Linked DNA regions of Homo sapiens. The protein of the gene in region 1 purifies or fractionates together with the protein of each later gene. This does not show direct contact. Each region holds a gene or a part of one and is shown in the gene's direction. Other genes may lie near its edges. The genes, in order: SLC20A1, UGCG, MAP7D3, FLVCR1, SLC26A2 and DCAF13.

Region 1 (3,500 bases):
GAACTGTATATCTTGCTACTTAGCAGAGAGTCAGAAGCATTAGTAGGATCTCCTGTTGTGAATTCCTGCTTGGTAAAGGTTTATGCTGGCCCTGTGTTGATTATTGAGTAGCAGATCATTTTGTTTTTGGAGAGGGTTTGTGTGTTTCACCTCCACAAAACACTTATTCCCCGGAAGGGGAATGGTGGTGCTCTGAGGTGCAAAGAGGGATTCTCAGGTGCCCAGAACCTCTCATTTGAGGAATGCATACCCCCACGGTGTTATTGAGGGCTGAAGTTAGATACGGTAACTGATTTCTTAATTGTATATTTCCTATATGGGTATGGGAATGGGCATGATCAAATGATGAAGAATGATTGGCATAGTGTTTAAAACAATATTGACTTTGAGGATCTTCCCCCACTCTGTGCACGTGCACACACACACTCTTGCAGGCCAATCCCTCAGTAACAGGAGTTTTCAGTTGAGTATGAATATTTCTGCTTCCTTTTAGGAGTTAAATTTCAAGAAAATATCCTTAGACTGGTAAGCTTTTGGTATCTTAACTGCTAAAATCTGAATATTTGACCATTAAGATATATTCCAACTCTTAAATGTCTATCTTGAAAATTAAGATTAACATGACCTTTTTTTTTAATTTCAAAAAATTGCTTTTAAACATTTTCTATTCTCTGAATGTTTGTTCCAAGCATGTTGGGGATAGGTGGGAACAGACAGAATGGAGGTGAGGTACTTCTATTTAGGACTGGCATCGCACAGAAGGAATATGCTTCAGTGCTCCTGTTGAGTATTTTTAAATTCTAGTCAAAGAAAATAGGGCTTTTGGCATTCTCATTAGTTAGAAATATATTTAGGATGTCTTCCCTTTTCTTTAGACAAAACCAGAATATCCAATATGTAAAAGTGAACTATTCTGGTGAAGATGGGGGGTTTTGTGAAGACCTTTCCTGTCCCACATGACTAGACGATGAGGCATTCACATTATTTCCAGGTGAAGTTTTACTTGTGTGTTAGGTGGATCTCTACAATGATGAGACCTTTCTTGTTTTACCTTCTTCCTAGACTCTCTGGAACTTTTGATTTTTTTTTAACCATGAACCTGTATTTCACAATAAACTATTGGTATAGTAGTGTCATTCATACCCTACCCCATCCCCAACAACTTTGCGTAGAGAATACCTCAGATTTGTTTACCTCAGGGAATACTTAATTGGGCTATGCTATACAGGATAATAAATACACAGGCTGCTACTTCAGACTAGTCAATTACAATTTGATTTATGGATAATCATATTACGAAATATCTTTGAAAATCTATTGAGAAGTCCCCACATAATGTCTTTAAAACCCAGGAAATTTTTGGGGGTGGGAGTCTTGGGTTGGGTTTTTTGGAGCCTTTTTTTTTTTTTTTTGAGACGGAGTCTCACTCTGTTGCCCAGGCTGGAATGCAGTGGCACGATCTGGGCTTACTGCAACCTCCGCCTCTCGGGCTCAAGCAATTCTCCTGCCTCAGCCTCCTGAGTAGCTGGGATTACAGGCGCCACCACACCCGGCTAGTATTTTTGTATTTTTGGTAGAGACGGGGTTTCACCACGTTGGTCAAGCTGGTCTTGAACTCCTGACCTCAGGTGCTCTGTCCGTCTTGGCCTCCCAAAGTGCTGGGATTACAGGCTTGAGCCACTGCACCTGGCTTTTTTTTTTTCTTAAGCGAAGTCTCGCCTGTCACCCAGGCTGGAGTACGGTGACTTAATTGTAGCTCACTGCAGCCTTGACCTCCCAGGCTCAAGTGATCCTCCTGCCTCAGCCTCCAGAGTAGCTGGGACTATGGGTGTGTGCCACCACATCTGGCTAACTTTTTATATTTTATAGAGGTGGAGTCTTGCTCTGTTGCTTAAGTTGGTCTTGAACTTCTGGGCTCAAGCCATCCCCTGCCTCATCCTCCCAAAGTGCTAGGATTACAGACAGACATGAGCCACCACCACACCTGACCTGCATTTTCTTAAGACTAGTCTTTAGAATAAAAATACACACCTTAGTTTCCTAATCTTGTTGACTGCCCTCAGAGTTTGACCACCGTTGAGTTAGTTATTCAAGGATGCTTAACAGTTCTTGATTTCTGTATGCTATTGTTTTTGTTTTGGCTATTTCACTATCTGTTAACATTCTCTATTAAACTATAGATAAGAGTTAAATTTTAGAGTGGTTTTCAATGAGTGCTCATCTCTGCTAATTTGAAATGGTACCTTTACTTTACACATGGGTCTGAGCTTTCCCTTGTTTCACTGGTCTTAAGCTACTAACTTTCCAGTGTATTGATTATTGTTGGAAGCTGTAGGGTTTTACTTTCTGTTTTTCCTCCCCAAGATTTTCCACTGGAATTGTGATCAAGATAACATTAAACCTTTTAGGCTAAGGTCTTTATAAAGTTTTTAGCCTTCCCATATATGTATTCAGATCTTTGCTCCCAATTTTTTTTTTTTTCTGAGATGGAGTCTTACTCTGTTGCCCAGGCTGGAGTGAGGTGGCCCAGTCTCCACTGACTGCAACCTCTGTCTCCCAGGTTCAAGTGATTCTCCTGAGTCAGCCTCCAGAGTAGCTGGGACTACAGATGCTTGCCACCACATCCGGGCTAATTTTTTTGGTATTTTTAGTAGAGACAGGGTTTCACCGTATTACCCAGGATGGTCTCGATCTCCTGACCTCATGATTGTCCTGCCTCGGCCTCCCAAAGTGCTGGGATTACAGGTGTGAGCCACCGCGCCCAGCCTCCTCCCATTCTTTCGGTGTTTGACTTGGGTGTTCTCCTATAGAATTAATACATACTAGGTATGGTAGAATTCTTATTTTTAGTCACTGGCCTTACTGTTCCTTAAACATTTCAAGTTTTTGCCTTAGGGCCTTTGCATTTGCTGATATCTCTGTCTGGAACATTCAGCGCCCAAATAATCAGGTGGTTTGCCCCTTCTGTACCCATAGTTAATGTACACAGCTTGCTAGCTTACTACATTTATGTCATGCTTATTCCTTGACCCTCCCCACCCAAATGGTGCCCCCCCTTCCATCACTCTCCTCTTACCCTTCTTTATTTCTCTTCACAGCATTTGTCAGTACTTTACATTATTCCATACTAGAAGGTGAGTGTCAGTTCTATTAGAACAGGAACTTGGTCTTATTCCCTCCTATATTTCGGTGCCCAGAATAGCACTTGGCACACAGTCTTTTGAGTGAGTGGATGACCTTGTGCACAATCAGTTATTATCATTGAACTTCGGTAAAGCATTAATTGTGGCATCTTTGTCAGATGTTTAGATAAGATGGTTGGCGTACGCATAGTCTGCATGTTGTATTTTTAGTCTTTGAAGATATGAAGTCAGGTAAGCAACATCCTAACATAGTCTATTTCTTGACATCTCTTACAAACGTAGAGTATAGCCTATCCTCAGGTGTGTGCTGAAGTTTATATTAGGGCTTTTGGGTACCTTAGAATGTGGGTATTGCAA
Region 2 (4,110 bases), on another chromosome or scaffold:
ATTACAGGCGCCTGCCACCACGCCCGGCTAATTCTTTGTATTTTTAGTAGAGACGGGGTTTCACCATCTAGGCCAGGCCGGTCTTGAACTCCTGACCTCATGCTCCACCTGCCTCCGCCTCCCAAAGTGCTGGGACTACAGGTGTGAGCCACCGCGCCCAGCCACAACTTCTTTTCAAAATTGAATTCAATTCTGAAATATCTCAAGGGAGGTCATGGATTATTTAAAAGGAAATCACTTGCAACAATAAACATAAAACAATGCAGAAATAGTATAAACTCATCTAGATTGAAGAAACACAAACATTGAGTACTAGCATCTTCTTGGGATGACTTAAAATTAGGACAAATACTTAGTTACCTTACTACCCAAAGTGACATTTCTTCCCATTTTAGAGCTGTGCTGTCCACACGTACAATTAAAATTTTCTAGTAGCTAGCCAAAGTATTTAAAAAGAGAAATTAACTTAATAATTTACCTAATTTAATGTAGTATGTCCAAAATATTACCTTTTCAACATGCAATCAATATAAAATTTACTAACGAGATGGTCTTCCACATCTGGTGTACTGTTTACTCCACAGAGTGGCAAGCTGCCTTTCCAACCCTCACTTAGCCACATGCGGCTACCGTATTGGATGGCAGTCTTAGGGAATTTCAATATCAACTGATTCTTTAATTCTGAATTTGAGAATTTCTTTTTATAATACACACGGTCGCTAAGGCGCTTAGAGATCTGTGAGGCGCATGGAGATTATTTTACTCTCCGGTCCCTTTTGATCCAAGATCCCACAGCATTAAAAGCAGTAAGAGGGAAGGCAATGGGCATCCCTTGCGCCCAGGAACGTGGCCTGGAGGGCCTGGCTGCTCCGAGCAGTAGCAGTGCCCGGCGGGGAGGCTGCAGACGCGGCGTTGGAAGTTGGATTTCTAGACAAGCTCCGGCAGCTGCCCGGAACCCGTGTCTTTTTCTGGGGCACCCAGGAACAGCAGGGCCAGACGGAGAGAGAGCAGCCTCCAGCCAGGCACAGGGTCCCGAGCTGCCACCGACACCGAGGGAGCCCGGCCCAGGGCTGCAGCGCTTTCCGCCTAGGTGGGCGGCAGCGGGAGCGAGGAGCCGGAGGAAGCCCGGCCTGCGTCCTGCGGGCAGCAGGACACGATCTCCCCGGCGCGCTCTCGCCGGCGCCGCAGCGGGCGCGCGGGCGACAGGGTGGGCGTGGACCGATGGGGGCACCGCCCCTGGGAGAGGCGGGCGCCGCGGTTCCGGGGGCGGGACGCGCCGAGGAGTGGGGCGCGAGCCGCCGGTTTTGATTAGTGCGCGGAGCTGCGGCGGTGGAGCTGCTCGGCCGGGAGCCCGGCGGCGAGACGGAGAGGCGGCGGAGGTGCCCGCGCGCAGGGTCTGGTGGGCGGCCGCGAGGCTCGGGAGAGGCGAACCGGAGCGCGGGACCGCGGTCGCCCCGACCAGAGCCGGGAGACCGCAGCACCCGCAGCCGCCCGCGAGCGCGCCGAAGACAGCGCGCAGGCGAGAGCGCGCGGGCGGGGGCGCGCAGGCCCTGCCCGCCCCTTCCGTCCCCACCCCCCTCCGCCCTTTCCTCTCCCCACCTTCCTCTCGCCTCCCGCGCCCCCGCACCGGGCGCCCACCCTGTCCTCCTCCTGCGGGAGCGTTGTCCGTGTTGGCGGCCGCAGCGGGCCGGGCCGGTCCGGCGGGCCGGGGGATGGCGCTGCTGGACCTGGCCTTGGAGGGAATGGCCGTCTTCGGGTTCGTCCTCTTCTTGGTGCTGTGGCTGATGCATTTCATGGCTATCATCTACACGTGAGTGAGGGACCGCAGGAGGGGCTCGGGGCAGGGGTCCGGGCCTCGGAGACAGGCGAGAATGGGAAACGTTTGCGCTTTGAAGGGGACTGGGCTCGGGCGGGGGTGGAGAAAGCTGATCGTCAGGCTGTTCCCCCCGTTCCCTCGCCCCTCGGACCGGCGGTGGCGGTGGTCTTTGCGAGGGAAAAGTGTTGGGCGTGGGAAGGGTTTGCTGGGTTGCAGGCGACTGCCCAGCCAGGCTAAAGGAGACTGCTCTTACGTGTCAGGCTGAAGGTGGTGGCTTGGTTTGATTGTGCTGGGGATTCGTGTAATTTTTCATCTGGGCCGAGATGTATGGTGTATTGTTTTTTTCTCCCGACCTGGGCCACGTTTCTGTTAGGGTGGTGATTGTGTCCACTTTTCTGGGAGCTGCTCACAGCTATCTGGACACCTCTCTGTGGATTTTCTTCTTCCTGGAAGGGCTCTATGCGCTTAGATAGGTGTGAAGCACCTGTCCACCCTGAAAAATGTCCACCAAACCTCCGAGCTGGCATGATAGCTTTGAGTCCTGTCAGCTTGTACATCTCAGCGTGGTTTTCTTTCCTTTTTTCAGTTCCTCGTTTTATTGTTTTATGTAGATTTGTACTCTCCCCGTGCCGGCCACATCTTTTCATTTTTGTTTAACAAATACTTCTTGAGGCCTACTAGATACCATTCACTGTTATTGGCCAGGGGACATGGTGGTGAGCAGGACAGAATTCCTGTCCTCATGAGTCTTACATTCTAGAAGGAAGGAGCAGATAAAATCTAAATAAGGTTATGAGATTGTGACGAAGCGTGTAAGTAAAATAGAACTGGGTGATGGCGTGAATAGAGACATGGGTTATGTGGCTAGTTTGGTATATCCACTGTTTAAGGTGAAATCTGCCTCTGTAAAGAAATGAAAAAATTATATAGAGCACATTACTGATATCGATTCACTTGGATTTTTAGTCTGGGGGGAGAAAAGAGCAATTGTATATAGTAATCGTTACCATGAACTAGAATAGAGTGTATGTTAGTGGAAGAGACTTTAAGAAATTAGTTACTTTTAGTTTTTTGGTTTTTTTTTTTTCCTTTTTACTGCGGAAAAAGTGTGCCTTTGCTTTTGGAAACACTGTATTTTATTAGTATAGTGTGGCATTTCCTGGTACTGAGAAAGATGATGCTGGTACAGGTTATACTGATATTTCTTTGAAAGTGAAAGAAAACATGCCACTTGGATATTGTTGACTTTAGTTTTTGGAGTTGGTGAGCTTAGTCACAGCACATTCTGGAGTTCATTTAAAATATGTGAGTTCTTTTTCTTTAAAAAAATTGTTACTTTTTACCGTCATAAAAATAAAAAATGCTTACTGTGTAAGGAATTTATGCAATAGAGAGAGATGGAGAAAATTAAAATATGCACACACCAAAACTACATTACCTTGTTAACCTTTTGTGACTATCCTTCCAATCTGTGTGTGTGTGTGAGAGAGAGAGAAGGAGGGAGGGGAAGAGGGAAGAGAGAAAAGGACTATATTATGATTATTGTTCTGTAACCTGCTTTAAAGTTCATCTGTTTAATAAATGTTTATTGAAAAGCCGTTTTGTGCAAGGCACTGTTCTAGTTGCTGGAAGAGTGAAGAACAAACATACAAGGCCCCTGTTCACATGGAACTGTCCTGTAAAATGTCTTGACCGTTTTTTGCATGTCAATATCTGTATGATCTCTACATCATTTGTAATAGATGCATGATATTTTAGTTTACCAGGTACCAAGATTTATTTATTATTACTGATGGATGTTTAGGTTGTTTCCAATTTATCTAGATTACAAAGAACACTGTGATGAATTTATATGCATACATCTTTGAGAAATGATCTCATTTATATTTCCGAAAGAGGAATTATTGGGCCAGAAGTGGTGCACATTTTAAACTTTGATACATATTGGCCCCATGGAAATGTTATGTATATTCACAGTCCTGGTAACATTGTATGATGGCCCCATTTTGCCTTACAAACACTAAGTAGCAGGCATTTCACTGTTTTCTGTTTCTATTTTCATTCCTTTAAAGTTACATTGAGCACTTTTAAAATATGTTTATATGCTAGTTACATTTAGATGTAAATTACATACTCATAATCCTTTGCCTGTGCTGCAATCTGTTGCTGAATTCATCTTTCTGATATAAAGGTTGTTTTCTGTCACATGTAGCATTCTTTTCCCCAGTCTGTTTTTTGTCTTTTAACTTTGTACATATATTTGACATGGAGAAAAGTGTGTGTGCATGTGTGTT
Region 3 (4,282 bases), on another chromosome or scaffold:
CAGGTTATCCACCTGCCTGGGCCTCCCAAAGTGCTGGGGCTGGGATTACAGGTGTGAACCACCGTGCCTGGCCCCCCACTTGTATTAATCTACATCATCGCAAACACTTATTGACCACGTTTTAATTTTTGTTAAAATTGTAGGTGCAACGTAATGTCTTTTTTTTCTTTTTCTTTTCTTTTCTTTTTTTTTTTTTTTTTTTTTTTGAGACAGAGTCTCGCTCTGTCACCCAGGCTGGAGTGCAGTGGTGCTATCATGGCTCACTGCAAACTCCACCTCCCGGGTTCAAGCGATTCTCCTGCCTCAGCCTCCCAAGTAGCTGGGATTACAGGCACCCACCACCATGCCCGGCTAATTTTTGTATTTTTAGTAGAGTCGGAGTTTCACCATGTTGGCCAGGCTAGTCTCGAACTCCTGACCTCAAATGATCCACCCACCTCAGCCTCCCAAAATGCTAGGATTACAGGCATGAGCCACCGTGCCTGCCCCATATTACATATTATATATATTATATATTAATATATGTAACTTATGCTATCATTGCTAACATATGTAATATATGCTATTATTAGCTTCTTCCATTTTACAGCTCCCATGTCATTTGGAGACTCAGTGGTCTCGCCAAAGTGCCCATCTCACAAGTGGTCCAGCCCCATTTTGGGATCTCCTGCACCACACTTAATGGCCCCAACCATAAACTGCGTGCCTACAACTATGTCACTACACACACACTCACAACAGTGGTGACTCCACCTCATAAGGGCAAGCCCCCATGAAGTGAGGTCTGCCCCTTAAAGGAGCCTCAGGCCAATGACGGTTTTCCTTGTGAATGGGAAAAACATTCTGCAACCTGGTAGAGTCTCTCCCAAAATCCGGAGAGATTGATGCCAATAAGTCCTCTGCCTCTCTTTGAAGACTCACAAACATCTTAAAGATATTTCACCCAACTTTGAGACCTATGTGTCATGATTTATTGTGCAACAGTTTAGGGAAGCCTACTCATGATGGGGCCCCTAGCACCTCAAAGCAAGCCTGCGACTCCCAACCTCTCCCTAGGCTTCTTCCCCCAACTTGGGTCTTTCTTTGTGTAATGTTTCAAGGACTAGTAAACTCATGATACAAGCGCACCCAGGAGGCACGCCGTAAATGTTCTTTAAATGAATGAATGAATGAGGAAGGAATGTTACTGTGTTGCTAGGTAAAGGTGAAGAAAGGAATGTTGGGGGGGCCAAGCTGGGTGCTGATTGGCTAGTCCTCACAATGCAGTAGGGGCAGAGCACGGAACATAGGAGAGGGTTTCTTTAGACCAGGTAGTCGCTGCCCAGCCGGTCAGGACGTGGGACGCAAGGGGCAATCCTGCCCGGTTCGCAGGTCCGAGGCGGGCGCGGTGGCCCTTCGGGCCCCGCCCCGCCCCGCCCCGCCCCGCCCCGCCCACCGGCAGCCCGGCCACGACCCAAGCGGAGGCCGCGCCGACGCCTGCGCAATGTATGCGGAGAGCCACCACCGCCTCCGGTCCCGACTCCGATGATGGCGGACGGCGCCGCAGCTGGCGCTGGCGGCAGCCCATCCTTGAGAGAGCTGCGGGCACGGATGGGTGAGCGGGCGGGTGGCTCCCGGGGGTGGTTCGGGCCCGCGTGGGAGGCAGGGTTCCCGCAGTCCCCGGGCCGTCGGAGCGGCGCAGCGGGCGCCACAAAACTTTTCCCTGGAGTCGCCTCGTGCTATCTGGTCCTCCCCTCACCCCCGCCGGAGTGCCCTGGGATGGGACAGGGGCGGGGGCGGGGGGTTGAAATTGTCAGCCGACGCCGCGAGCCGCCTGAGTCCCGCCGCCAACGGTCGAACTGCCGCTGCCAACGGTCTGAGCCCCGCGGACGCGGCGCGAGGCAACTCACGGGCTCTGCTTCGACGGGCGGGGCGGGGGCGGCTGGAAGCCGGACCCCGCGGACCGCCCCGTGCCCCATCTGCCCTTGGGGGGCGGTGGCCGCCCGCGCAACCGCCCCAACGAACGCACAGCTGCCTGGGATGTGCGGGCGCCCGCAGGGACTCCGCGCGCCGGCGCCGCCTCCGCCGCCAGGCAGCCTTTCCAGGCACGGAAAGTTTGAGTTATCCCCCAGCCCGGGTCGTGGGCGAGTTTAGGCGCTTTTACTGTCGCAGTCCTTGCCTCTCCCAAAGGCTTACCTCCTGCACCCTCCCGGTCAAGGTCCAGGGAGGAAGCTGGGTGAGGGTGGGGATGCTTAAAAGTTGCTTTAAAAGTTGGGATGAAACTTGGCTCTTTGCATCTCCTGATTTGCCTGCTGTAGCACATGACTTCAACAAGATGTCATCTTCTGTGGGACATCTTGCAGTCTCTAGGCTGAACTGAACGGGAATCAGCACTTCAGAGTGCTTTTTCCTCAACTAGTCCCATCGCCAAAACGTTTTTCCCTCCTCGAAAACCGTTAATCTTATACAATTTGACAGCACATTGCTTGGTCCAGGAGACTGCTCCACTACCTGAGATAGGATTTCTTCCTTTCAGGAGGTTGCTTTTAGCCTGTTAGACTAGTTCCCTCTGCTATGAGCGCGAATAAAACGATTTTATTAATTTTAATTGAATTTCTTAGGGGTTTTTTTGCATTTGCAATTAAAAAGTTAGATTGTTTACGATTGGGAAGCTATATGTTACTTGAGAAGACTTTGAATCAGCTCTCCAAAGACTGTGTCAGAAGCATATACTACATACACTTTCACCATTCATTAGGGAGAAAAGAATCTTCCTTCCGTGTCTATACTTATGGTTCACCTAGAAAGACAGTCTCCAATAAATTGTGTTGCTTATTGGTACCTGTGGCTCTCAGGCACTGGTTTATTTCAGTGATTTAGATTAACCAGCATTACTCCAATATGGTGAAGAAGCTGTGAACCGGATAAACCCCTAAAAGCATTTGTATATCAGATGTTGGAAAGTGTTTTAAAATTATATATGGGACAGATACTGGAATTCACAGCATTTCAAACCAAAAACTTAAGAGCCATGTAAAAGTCTTAACCTAGGACCCTGGTTTAAAACCTTGCTGCCCACTTCATGTTAGGAATTGTAAATATCGCATGTTAGACTTTTTTCACAGAGCACCAACTTGACCAGAACTGCCCTTTAGATCTCAGCGTTTTCCTGAAGGGGTCAAGGAGACAGATGTTTTTGCTAAAATGTTGTTTTCATCTTCTGCTGGCAGTCTGGCAGCAAGAGTTAAAACTGTCTTGAATACATAACATATAAATGCATAGCACAGTCAAAATACATTTATTTTATACATTTATGTATGCATGCAATAGATACATGTATATATATATGTGTTACATATAAAGTGTAAATATATATTTGTTGAGTGATGTTTTCTGTGCATAGCACTGTGCTGAGGTTGTAGCATACCAAATATTTAACAAAACACGTGTTTATATTTTTATGCAGAATTGTTTTAAAATAAAAATTTATTTGAATATTTCAACCAGATGAGCATAAGAAACTTGCCACTGACGTATCACCTTTCCCTTCTTGTTTTTCTAAATTCACCAGTGTTTCTCAGTTTAGAATAACTTTTTCAAAGAATAATTTCTACCAATGCAGAAAAAGCTACGGAGATTGACAGCTAGATTATCATAGAATTTTAGAGTTGGAGAAACCTTAAGATGATCTTGTCAGGCATCCAGAGTCCCAGCTGTAAAATCCTGGGGCACTTCTGCCACTTGAATGGGCACTCTCATGAGGAGCTTAATATTTTTCCAAGTAGCCATTCCATTGTAGACAGCTCTAAATGGTAGAAAATTGTCTCCAGTTTTGTCTTCAAGACATGCTATCTTTGGTTTGAACTTGGAGGTCTTCTGAAAGTCTCAGCCCTATGACTTTGGCTTTTGCTATTTGAGGCAAAATTCTGTGAATCTGCCTGATTTTTATGGTTCTCTGATGGCAGATTTCTTTTCCTGTTATTTTTTCTTAATATTTCAAAATAAAGTTGCTTTGAAATTTACAGTTAAATCAAGTTCTGGCTTCACCACTTACTACCTGTGTGAACTGGGAAAGTTATGTTTAGCTTCAGTTTTTTCAACTATAAAAAAAATTGGGGAAAATAATTACGTCCACTTTATAGGATTGTTGTAAGAATTACATGAAGTAATACAAATGAACTTTGTAAATGGTGAAATGGTATATAATATGTGTTATGGAAGTTTTTAGAAAAGTTCTATAAATACAGATTAAGATTCATAATTCAGTTTTAGTAATACACTACACATTTTCTTATTTAATCTC
Region 4 (3,500 bases), on another chromosome or scaffold:
CAAAGTAAATTGAGAACTTTCTGGAAAGGATGCACCATCCTAGATGCCATTAAGAACATTCTTGATTCATGGGAGGAGGTCAAACTATCAACATTAACAGGAGTTTGGAGGAAGTTAATTCCCATTCTCATGGATGATTTTGAGGTGTTCAAGACTTCAGTGGAGGAAATAGCTGCAGATGTGGTGGGAATAACAAGAGAACTGGAATTAGAAGTGGAATATGAAGAGGTAACTGAATTGCTGCATCTTATGGTAAAACCTGAAGAAATGAAGGGTTGCTTCTTTTTTTTTGGGGGGGGGTGCCGGAATGTTGCTGTGTTGCCCAGGCTGGAGTGCAGTGGCGTGATCTCGGCTCACAGCAAGCTCTGCCTCCCGGGTTCAGGCCATTCTCCTGCCTCAGCCTCCTGAGTAGCTGGGACTACAGGTGCCCGCCACCACGCCCGGCTAATTTTTTGTATTTTTTGTAGAGACGGGGTTTCACCATGTTAGCCAGGATGGTTTTGATTTCCTGACCTTGTGATCTGCCTGCCTCGGCCTCCCAAAGTGCTGGGATTACAGGTGTCAGCCACTGCGCCTGGCTGGGTTGCTTCTTATGGATAAGCAAAGAAAGTGTTTTCTTGAGTTGGAATCTACTAGTAAAGATGCTGTAAATGTTGAAATGACAACAAAGGATTTAGAATATTATATAAACTTAGCTGATGAAGCAGTGGCAGGGTTTGAGAGGATCAACTCCTGTTTTGAGGAAGTTTTGTGGGTAAAATGTTATCAAACAAGTATTGCACACAGAGAGATCTTTCATGAAAGGAAGAGTTGATTAATACGGCAAACTTCGTCACTGTCTTACTTTAAGAAATTGCCACAGCCGCTCCCACCTTTTAGCAACCACCACCCTGATCTGTCAGCAGCCATCAACATCAAGGCAAGACCCTCCACCAGCAAAAAGATAACTTGCAGAAGGCTTGGATAATCATTAGCATTTTTTAGCAGTAAAGTGTTTTTTGTTTTGTTTTGTTTTTTTGAGATGGAGTTTCGCTCTTGTTGCCCAGGCTGGAGTGGAATGGCGCCATCTGGGCTCACTGCAACCTCTGCCTCCTGGGTTCAAGTGATTCTCCTGCCTCAGCCTCCTGAGTAGCTGGGATTACAGATGCCCACCACCACAACCAGCTAATTTTTGTATTTTAGTAGAGATGGGGGTTTCACTATGTTGGCTAGGCTGGTCTCGAACTCCTGACCTCAAGTGATCCACCCGCCTCGGCCTCTCAAAGTGCTAGGATTACAGGCATGAGCCACTGAGCCTGGCCAGTAAAGTGTTTTTAAATTAAGGCATGTAGATTGATTTTTTTTTTTAGACATAATGCTATTGCAAACTTTAAATAGACTACAGTATAGTATAAACATAACTTTTTATGCACTGGAAAACCAAAAAATATGTGCAGTGGTGCGATCTCTGCTCACTGCAACCTCCACCTCCCAGGTTCAAGTGATTCTTCTGTCTCAGCCTCCCTAGTAGTTGGGACTACAGGTGCGTGCCGCCACGCCTGGCTAATTTTTTGTGTTTTTAGTAGAGATGGAGTTTCACCGTGTTGGCCGGGATGGTCTCGATCTTCTGACCTTGTGATCCACCCACCTCGGCCTCCCAAAGTGCTGGGATTACAGGCATGACCCACCACGCCCAGCAATATTCACTCTTTTGTGGTGATCTGGAGCTGAACCCACAATGTCTCTGAGATATACCTGCATTCCCTTCTGCCTAGAATGCCTTCCTCTCCTCTTGTCTGCTTGACAAGTTATTACTCAGTTTTTTCCAGTATCAAGTATGTCTTCTCTGGAAAGCCTTCTCTAATTTCCTTTGGCTGACATAGACTTTTTTTGCTCCCACTTCCCCACCATACCTTGCAATTATCACACACTGTTATACTTGTTTACATGTCAAAGTTTCCCTAGATTGGAGAGTCCTTTAAGAAAAAGAATTACACTTTTCATTTTTGTATCATTGGTTGCTAGCATTCCCGTATTTGTTCAATAATGAATGACTTATTAATTGTTAACAACTTTAGAGAGGTACTATTATTTTTTAGGCTGTTGGGATGCTATTAAATATCATGACACTACAGTGCATTAAATTTGACAATACCAAGAAAGACTTTGAGCTGCTTTTTAAAAAAATCTTCACATAACAGTTTATAGTAACTTGATGCCCCTCTGTTTCAGCATTAATCAAGTCTGATCTGCGAAGACACAACATAAATATAGGAATTACAAATGTTGATGTTAAAGCTGTAAGTAATATTTTTATGATTATACTGTTGAGAAGTATGTATAGAATAAATGTGAAACCATATTTTTTTATTTAGCTATTTTTCTCCCGAGTCAACTGTTGATCTGTTATAATAGGATATGCCAGATGCTATACATTTTTAATCTTCTGATTGTTTTTATAGATACCAGCTGACAGTCCCACAGACCAAGAACCAAAAACGGTTATGTTGTCCAAGCAGTCAGAATCAGCAATTTGAAGAGAAAGGCAAAGTTACTGTCCTGTAGTAATTGGGGACAATGTGATCATCCTTGGAGAGAGATGTGAGCACCAAGGCTGGGTTTGTATGTGGTGGGGGAATAAACACACTTACTTGAAAATTACCATATGAACTCTAAATGCATAATTATTATTTTGCTTAATTGTTAAATTAAGGGAAATTTTCTTAAAATTCTTCTGTTTACATCATGTTAACACTACTGTTTATCTAATTAGTATCCGGTTTTTAGTCTCATATTGTATCTGAAAGTAAGCTTCTTGACGTTTACTTTTTAAAAGTCGATGTTTTTCTTTTTTGTAGAAAATGGAAGCTTAGAATACTTTTTAAAGTGATAATATGGGGTGTTCAGTCCCCATAAGATATAATAGTTCATGCAGTTTATATATTAAAGTATCCAGTGGAACTAAATGTACAATATATTCCTAATTGGCTGCCTTTTTCACTGTGCTGACCAGCTGTTCAAGCCACTTCAGTTTGAGTACAACATACCAACATGACACTACTCACCCACAAAGGACAGCATTGGGATCAGGCTTTCAGATGACCTCTAAGATTTTTCCCATTTATTGTACTCTTGTTACAAAGTACTTTTTAACACATGCAGTCAATGGCTATAAAAACTATTCTGTGTACAGATTCTACCCAGACTTTGGTCTTAGAATTATGTTCTAATTAAGGAGCCTGGTTACAGGTTCATTCTGTCTTGAGTTCTTTTCTGTGCTGCCTTTCTATCATGGATAAATGCTAACGCTGTATTTTTTCACTCCAACTTGAGATAGAGTAGTTTTGTACCCATTGCCTTTTTTTTCTTTTAAACTCTCTTTTTTTTTTTTTCCTGATGTGTAACTTTCTAGTAAGATAATTTCATCATGTATGTTACTGGCTATTTCATGATTTCATGTATCACATCGTATATTTTGCCTTGAAGATTCCTGAAATAAGGAAATCTATAATAACTTCAGA
Region 5 (3,500 bases), on another chromosome or scaffold:
CTTGGTGGAAGAGTCTGAGGTCTTTGAATCTGTGTCTGCTTACAAGAACCTTCAGATTAAGCCAGGCATCAAGATTTTCCGCTTTGTAGCCCCTCTCTACTACATAAACAAAGAATGCTTTAAATCTGCTTTATACAAACAAACTGTCAACCCAATCTTAATAAAGGTGGCTTGGAAGAAGGCAGCAAAGAGAAAGATCAAAGAAAAAGTAGTGACTCTTGGTGGAATCCAGGATGAAATGTCAGTGCAACTTTCCCATGATCCCTTGGAGCTGCATACTATAGTGATTGACTGCAGTGCAATTCAATTTTTAGATACAGCAGGGATCCACACACTGAAAGAAGTTCGCAGAGATTATGAAGCCATTGGAATCCAGGTTCTGCTGGCTCAGTGCAATCCCACTGTGAGGGATTCCCTAACCAACGGAGAATATTGCAAAAAGGAAGAAGAAAACCTTCTCTTCTATAGTGTGTATGAAGCGATGGCTTTTGCAGAAGTATCTAAAAATCAGAAAGGAGTATGTGTTCCCAATGGTCTGAGTCTTAGTAGTGATTAATTGAGAAGGTAGATAGAAGAATGTCTAGCCAATAGGTTAAAATTTCAAGTGTCCAACATTTCCCAGTTCCACAGTGGGAAATTTTGCACACTTGAAATTTTAACCAAGTGGCTAGATATTATTCCTCCTTTGAAGCTAATGGCATTTGTATATACACACTGCAGCAGAGCTTGTAGCTGGACAGAGTCAAAAAGAAGAAAATACGGTTTCAGGCTTTCTTGCAGATATGAAGTATTCTTGGAATGCAATAAGTATGTATTGAACTGTACTGTAAAGTAGCTCCAAAACTTAATTACTCTCCTGTTTTAGGGGTTATACATTTGGACTGTGCATTCTCCAAGAGATGAAGCGGTGAAGTTGGGATTTACATTGGAAGTGCTGTAGACTTCTTTATGTGGCTCAGTGGAGAGAGGGAAAGAATGTTGCACCTGCTCTAGTACCATAGGTCAAGAGGCTTCTGGATCACAAAGTCATAACTAGACAGGTTTGTTCTTGTAGTTTTCTATCCCCAGTCTTTGCTCCCCAGATGGCAGTAGTTTTTAGTAGGAAAGTGCCATTCCTGTCCTTAAGGCACAGTCTCATCAGAAGTCTAATACCTGGGCAGGTTTATAACATCCTGAGAGCCAGCCTGACATTAGACAGAATACCCTTTGTAATACATTGGAAATTTTTACTCATGCCTTTTTGTTTAGGATAAATAGGTAAGCACAAAGAGCTCTTCAAAATCAGAAAAAACAATAGGAGTCCTTCCTTGTCTTTTCTGTGATCTCTGTCCTTGTTTCTGAGACTTTCTCTACCATTAAGCTCTATTTTAGCTTTCAGTTATTCTAGTTTGTTTCCCATGGAATCTGTCCTAAACTGGTGTTTTTGTCAGTGACAGTCTTGCCAGTCAGCAATTTCTAACAGCATTTTAAATGAGTTTGATGTACAGTAAATATTGATGACAATGACAGCTTTTAACTCTTCAAGTCACCTAAAGCTATTATGCAGGAGGATTTAGAAGTCACATTCATAAAACCCAAGTGCTATGGGTGTATTATTCATGATAGCTGGCCCACAGGTCATGAATTGAGGAGGAATTTGCTTTCAAAAAGCAAGAATGTCCAACACTGAAAGTTTATAGTTTTATATTTGGACCTTGAAAGGTAAGAAAAAACCAGGTTCTCCAAAGTTAGGAATAGGGAACTAATTTATGAAACAGCCATCTTAAAAAAAAAAAAAGTAAACTGCAAAAGTACAAAATCATTTTTCAATCTGTTCCCAGTTTCTAAACAATTTTAAATATTTATGAGAAGCAAACCCTATGTGTAGGGCATCTGTTGGAGTGGGATGCTTTTAGACATATATTAAGTATGTACATGTTTAATATGTATATTTAAAATGCATATATATTTTATTATATCTATATTATCCTATATAGATATATGTAACTTAGCTTTATTGTTAGCTCCATAAGCTGCCAGTGTTGCTTTTCTGTTGGTAGAGCTCTCCCATTTGGTGACATGGAAAATACCTTTCCATTATCACAACAAAGCAGTTGCTCAGTAGAAAGTCTAGATTTCTGTCTTATAGGTGATTTCTGTCTTATAGGTGATTATAATCAAGTGTAGGCTTCCTGAATTTTGACATCCTTTTAGAACTTGGGTCTGGAATTCCAGAAATGTTAATTGCTGCTTGTATTTGTTCTTGTTTGTTTTTTAGCCAGTATTTGCCCTTTCTATCCAGCCTTATGAATAATAGCAGTAAAATCACAGTATCTTGGTCAGTCTTTATTTTTTTCCTTTTTTCTTTTTTAAGAGACAGTCATCCAGGCCAGAGTGCAGTTTGATGATAGCTTACTGAAGCTTCCCACTCCTGGGCTCAAGTTATCCTTCCATTTTGGCCTCCTGAGTAGCTAGACCATAGGTATGCATCACCACACCCTGCTAATTTTTTAAATTTTTTTCTAGAGAGAGGGTCTCACTGTGTTGCCCAGGCTGGTCTCAAACTCCAGGCTCAAGCAATCCTTCAGCCTCAGCCTCCCAGAGTGTTGGGATTACAGGCGTGAGCCACTGCACTTGGCCAAGTTATTTATTTTTAATCTCTCTTGCCCTTCTCCCAAGGCAGGCTTAAGTTGAGACTATTATAGGTGTCTAATAACCTGTGACAGAGTAATGAGTACATGCTTAAGATGTTATAATTAGCCAACACCAACACAGCAAAAAATATAATTCCAGCCAAAGATTCTGGAAAATCCCTCAGAAGGAGGGATAACAGGATTTGACCTTTACCAGCGATTTCTGTCCATATGTGGATGTAAACAGTTCTGGAACGTTATGCATGCAGTTAGCGAATCCTTGAATTATGTTCTGGTTTGTACTTGTCCCATCCATCCAAACAAGAGATTCTGCTTTTGGTAGCCATCTGTAGAAACATTTAAGATGTCACTAGAATTTACATTTCATCCTCTCTACTTGGGTTGAGGTTGCCTATACTTGCATATTGTTAAAATGTTTTGGTTGCTGATATTCAGAGGAATGAAACCTGGAACCAAAGCCTAATTTGCCGATAAAAAAACTGTTTTCGGCCAGGTGCAGTGGCTCATGCCTGTAATCCCAGCACGTTGGGAGGCCGAGGCGGGTGGATCACCTGAAGTCAGGAGTTCGAGACCATCCTGGCTAACACTGTGAAACCCCGTCTCTACTAAAAATACAAAAAATTAGCGGGGCATGGTGGCACGCGCCTGTAGTCCCAGCTACTCAGGAGGCTGAGGCAGGAGAATTACTTGAACCCGGGAGGCGGAGGTTGCAGTAAGCAGAGATTGTGCCACTGGACTCCAGCCTGGGTGACAGAGCGAGACTCCGTCTCAAACAAACAAACAAAAAACTGTTTTCATTTGCTCTCTTGACCAAAGGATAGGACTTTAGTTCTTTAAGCATTATTTTAAACACTATATTGATACAAA
Region 6 (3,500 bases), on another chromosome or scaffold:
CGTGCCAACAGTTTTGCTCACTGTTGCTTTTTTACTATTTGTGCAGCTGTCAGCACAGTGAAAAGACAAACTATGTCTTTACTAACATTATGAAAATAGTTTTGACTGTGTGGACCCTGAAAAGTTCTCAGGGTCCTCCAGAGGCCCAAAGTTCACAGTTTGAAAACCACTGACTTAGTAGTTTCTGCAGTTCATGCAGAAAAGGACTTTATCTATTTCAATATTATAACAATGCCTTCTCTCCAGTATTTTCATGTTTTTCATTTTATTTTTTACATTTAAAATTACCTGGAATTTTATTTTCACATAAGGCATCAAATTGGCTCAATTTTTTTGAATGACTAACCAGATATTATAATACCATTTTTTATAATCCATTTTTTCTCCAAGTTGAAATGCCATGTTTATCACAATATGCATGACCTAACTTTGCCCCTGTTCTTGTTTTTCTTTTGCTCTACTCATTATATTTTTAGTTTTATGTACTTTATGTATTTGTCACAAATCTTTACTAAAACAAGGTGGGATATAAATGGATCAATAAGTGTAATACTGGAATGATATGGTATGTTACCTGTTTTAAACAAGATACTTATTTGATATGTGTTGGCAAGTTTTAATTTATAACTGTTGTTCCTTACCATCATCATAATAAAACAAATATTTCTAGGTTGGTGATGACAAAACTGTGAAGCAGTGGAAAATGGATGGGCCAGGCTATGGAGACGAGGAAGAGCCATTACATACAATATTAGGAAAGGTACAAAAGTAAATTGACTAATAGCTTGCCTATTAACATTCTTTTATTTAAAATTATTTTATAGTTATAATTTCCTAAGATGGGGAAGAAGATGCAGATAAGAAACGAAAGACTTTAGGCTGTAATTGTTGACCCATTTACGCAATATTTAATGCAGCTAAAGTCCTTTGATGCTAAAGAATTTTAACAGTTTTTTTTTTTTTTGGTATTCATTGTAGTAGAGTTTGATTTCTGTTTTTAGCCAGAGGATACAATGAAACATTTCCCATGGGAAGACCACGGAGAAAAAGATAGAAGTTCAGAAAATGCTTCAGCTTGTCTAGTTGATGTCATCATAGATCTTACACAAAACTCAGAATTTCTTAGTTGAAAGACTCCTTTAAGAAATGAAGAAATTTAATAGTATTATGCATCATGTATAAATCTTATTAATGTTTCTACCAAATTATTCTGCAAATCAGGTGATGGGTGGTTTAGTTTTAGCATAAGAATAATTTAGAACATTTGGTCTATCCATGTTTTATAATGTTTACATTTTTATATTAAGCAAACAATTCCAAAATTAGATTTAATCTTTAAATTAAATCTACCTTTTAAAAATCACTTTGTCGTTTCAATATTATGGTTAGTATATAATATTTAGGTTCTGCTTTAGGTTTCAAGAAGACTAAATGTTCTTAAAGGGATAGGGGAATGGGGTATGAGTATGAGGTAGAGATAATTTGTAGTTGGAAACACGTTAGTAATTTCTAAAACAAAATTGGTTTCATTCTTAAAATGTCTTGTCTCATTATGGTATTGTTTCCCCCTTTAAGTAAGGACTTCAAAGAAGTTTCTTTGTGAACAGGGCTTTTCTCTAAAAAGATAGTATAGATAAATATATTTAAAATATTATTCTGCAGATTTGAATTAGTAATGAAAAAAATCCTCTTAACCTTTTTGCTTTTAAAGACAGTGTATACTGGGATTGATCATCACTGGAAAGAAGCTGTTTTTGCCACATGTGGACAGCAAGTAGACATTTGGGATGAACAAAGAACTAATCCTATATGTTCAATGACCTGGGGATTTGACAGTATAAGTAGTGTTAAATTTAACCCAATTGAGGTAATGTTTTTTTTTAAGTATGTTTTACTTATTATGGCTTAATAATTTCAGTTCTGTTTAGAAAACTTTTGAATGTATGATAGAAACTTCTGAATTTTAATGGTGTTTTGGCATTTTGTCAGTTTTCCCGATTGTAAATGAGTTCTGATACCTTTGCTCAAATCCCAACATGTTTCCCAGCAGTTTAGTCCCAGATACTAGAGTTAAGCATTGTTAGAGGAGTGGTGTGTGCATTTGCCCATTGGGGTAAAATCCAAGTAAATATAGTCTTGTTTTAACTTTAGTTTTACTCATGCCTTCAACTTCATGTTCCATAGATTATGTCATTGTACATTTAGGAAAATGTTAATTTTTCTACCTGCCTTGGAGGTCAGAAGAAGGAGCATTGGACATCATTTTGTCTATTTGTAATTGGTAAGGTACCAATGCTTCATAAAAACATTTGTGATTATTGTTGAACTGCATGGTAATTAGTTATAGTTATATTTTTCTTTGCTCAGAAGTCTGAATTGTGATTCCCAGTTCCTCCAGGCCTAAGGGAAGAGTTGGAGATTGGCCACTACATGTCGTCTGTTTAGGTCTGAATTTAGGAATGGAGGCTGTCCTGAAGGCTAAGCTAGCCCTTGGACTCCAGATCTTTCTCTGAACTTTTTCTTAATGCATAACAATAGATGAACTGATTGTCCAGAAGACTCAGTAGGGATATGTTTTTCCTGTTGAAAGAAAAGGCAATCATAGCATATATAAGCCAATTTTAGCAGTTATTGCGAGGCTACCATTTTAGGTAGTATGAGAGAAAAATCCTAATATGCAAGTGTTATGCTCTTAAAGACCCAACCTGATAAAAGATAGGAAGTAAGGTTGAGTCAAAATAGTAAGGTATAAAAATAGTTTGTATGATATACTGGAAAATGAGATGCTGCAGTGCGATGTGAGCTTGGCCTTGAGGAATTACTGAGAAGTCAGAGGACACTCTTCCTGCAACTACCACATGCTCACACACACACTTTCTAGAGACGCTACAGGTCTAGAATAGGTTGGCAAACTAGTCTGTGAGCCACATGTGGCCCACTGCCTGTTTTTGTAAATAGAGCTCTGCTAGAAGACAGCCATGTTCTCTTGCGTACATATTGTCTGTAGCTGCTTTCGTGCTATGATGGCAGAGTTAAGTAATTGCCACAGAGACCATATGGCCCACAAAACCTAAAATACTTACTCTCTGGCCCTTTACAGAAAAAGTTTTCTGATTCCTGGTCTGGAGTGTCTGTCTCTATTATATCTTTCTCACTCCATCCTCCATCTTCCTTCCTTATGTTTCCCTTGGTTGTAGAAGAGAGAAGTGGCATGGAAAGGCAGCTACCTTTGCAGAGCAGGACCAAGTGTAAAAGTTGATAACATATGTGAACATTTTTTAAAAGTGCTATCCAAATTCAAGATGGTGACGGTATTACGTACTAAAAAAAAAACACAAAAAAACCTAAACAGACACTGGTTCTTACTATTTAGAGGAACAAAAAAATCTTTTGCTTCTCTGCTTTGGTGAACATCTGTGTCAGAAGAGCCGATCACCAATTCTAAAATCGTAATTATTAGGGATGACCTAGTGACCATGTTTTTCAAACTTGCCTGTATA

The links.
Region 2: the proteins of SLC20A1 (region 1) and UGCG purify together in Homo sapiens (affinity purification with mass spectrometry; 2 studies listed by BioGRID and IntAct, with this or other methods). This does not show direct contact.
Region 3: the proteins of SLC20A1 (region 1) and MAP7D3 purify together in Homo sapiens (affinity purification with mass spectrometry; one large-scale study listed by BioGRID and IntAct). This does not show direct contact.
Region 4: the proteins of SLC20A1 (region 1) and FLVCR1 purify together in Homo sapiens (affinity purification with mass spectrometry; 2 studies listed by BioGRID and IntAct, with this or other methods). This does not show direct contact.
Region 5: the proteins of SLC20A1 (region 1) and SLC26A2 purify together in Homo sapiens (affinity purification with mass spectrometry; one large-scale study listed by BioGRID and IntAct). This does not show direct contact.
Region 6: the proteins of SLC20A1 (region 1) and DCAF13 purify together in Homo sapiens (affinity purification with mass spectrometry; one large-scale study listed by BioGRID and IntAct). This does not show direct contact.

Annotation. Positions count from the first base shown.
Region 1 is NC_000002.12:112,648,939-112,652,438, forward strand, and holds part of SLC20A1 (sodium-dependent phosphate transporter 1), read left to right. Parts: intron 1-3,500. UniProt on the Homo sapiens protein: Sodium-phosphate symporter which preferentially transports the monovalent form of phosphate with a stoichiometry of two sodium ions per phosphate ion. May play a role in extracellular matrix and cartilage calcification as well as in vascular calcification.
Region 2 is NC_000009.12:111,895,504-111,899,613, forward strand, and holds the start of UGCG (ceramide glucosyltransferase), read left to right. Parts: upstream 1-1,310; 5' UTR 1,311-1,712; coding exon 1,713-1,810; intron 1,811-4,110. UniProt on the Homo sapiens protein: Participates in the initial step of the glucosylceramide-based glycosphingolipid/GSL synthetic pathway at the cytosolic surface of the Golgi.
Region 3 is NC_000023.11:136,248,601-136,252,882, reverse strand, and holds the start of MAP7D3 (MAP7 domain-containing protein 3), read left to right. Parts: upstream 1-1,482; 5' UTR 1,483-1,524; coding exon 1,525-1,594; intron 1,595-4,282. UniProt on the Homo sapiens protein: Promotes the assembly and stability of microtubules.
Region 4 is NC_000001.11:212,892,775-212,896,274, forward strand, and holds part of FLVCR1 (choline/ethanolamine transporter FLVCR1), read left to right. Parts: intron 1-2,211; coding exon 2,212-2,279; intron 2,280-2,441; coding exon 2,442-2,516; 3' UTR 2,517-3,500.
Region 5 is NC_000005.10:149,981,258-149,984,757, forward strand, and holds part of SLC26A2 (sulfate transporter), read left to right. Parts: coding exon 1-556; 3' UTR 557-3,500. UniProt on the Homo sapiens protein: Sulfate transporter which mediates sulfate uptake into chondrocytes in order to maintain adequate sulfation of proteoglycans which is needed for cartilage development.
Region 6 is NC_000008.11:103,425,386-103,428,885, forward strand, and holds part of DCAF13 (DDB1- and CUL4-associated factor 13), read left to right. Parts: intron 1-670; coding exon 671-760; intron 761-1,711; coding exon 1,712-1,867; intron 1,868-3,500. UniProt on the Homo sapiens protein: Part of the small subunit (SSU) processome, first precursor of the small eukaryotic ribosomal subunit.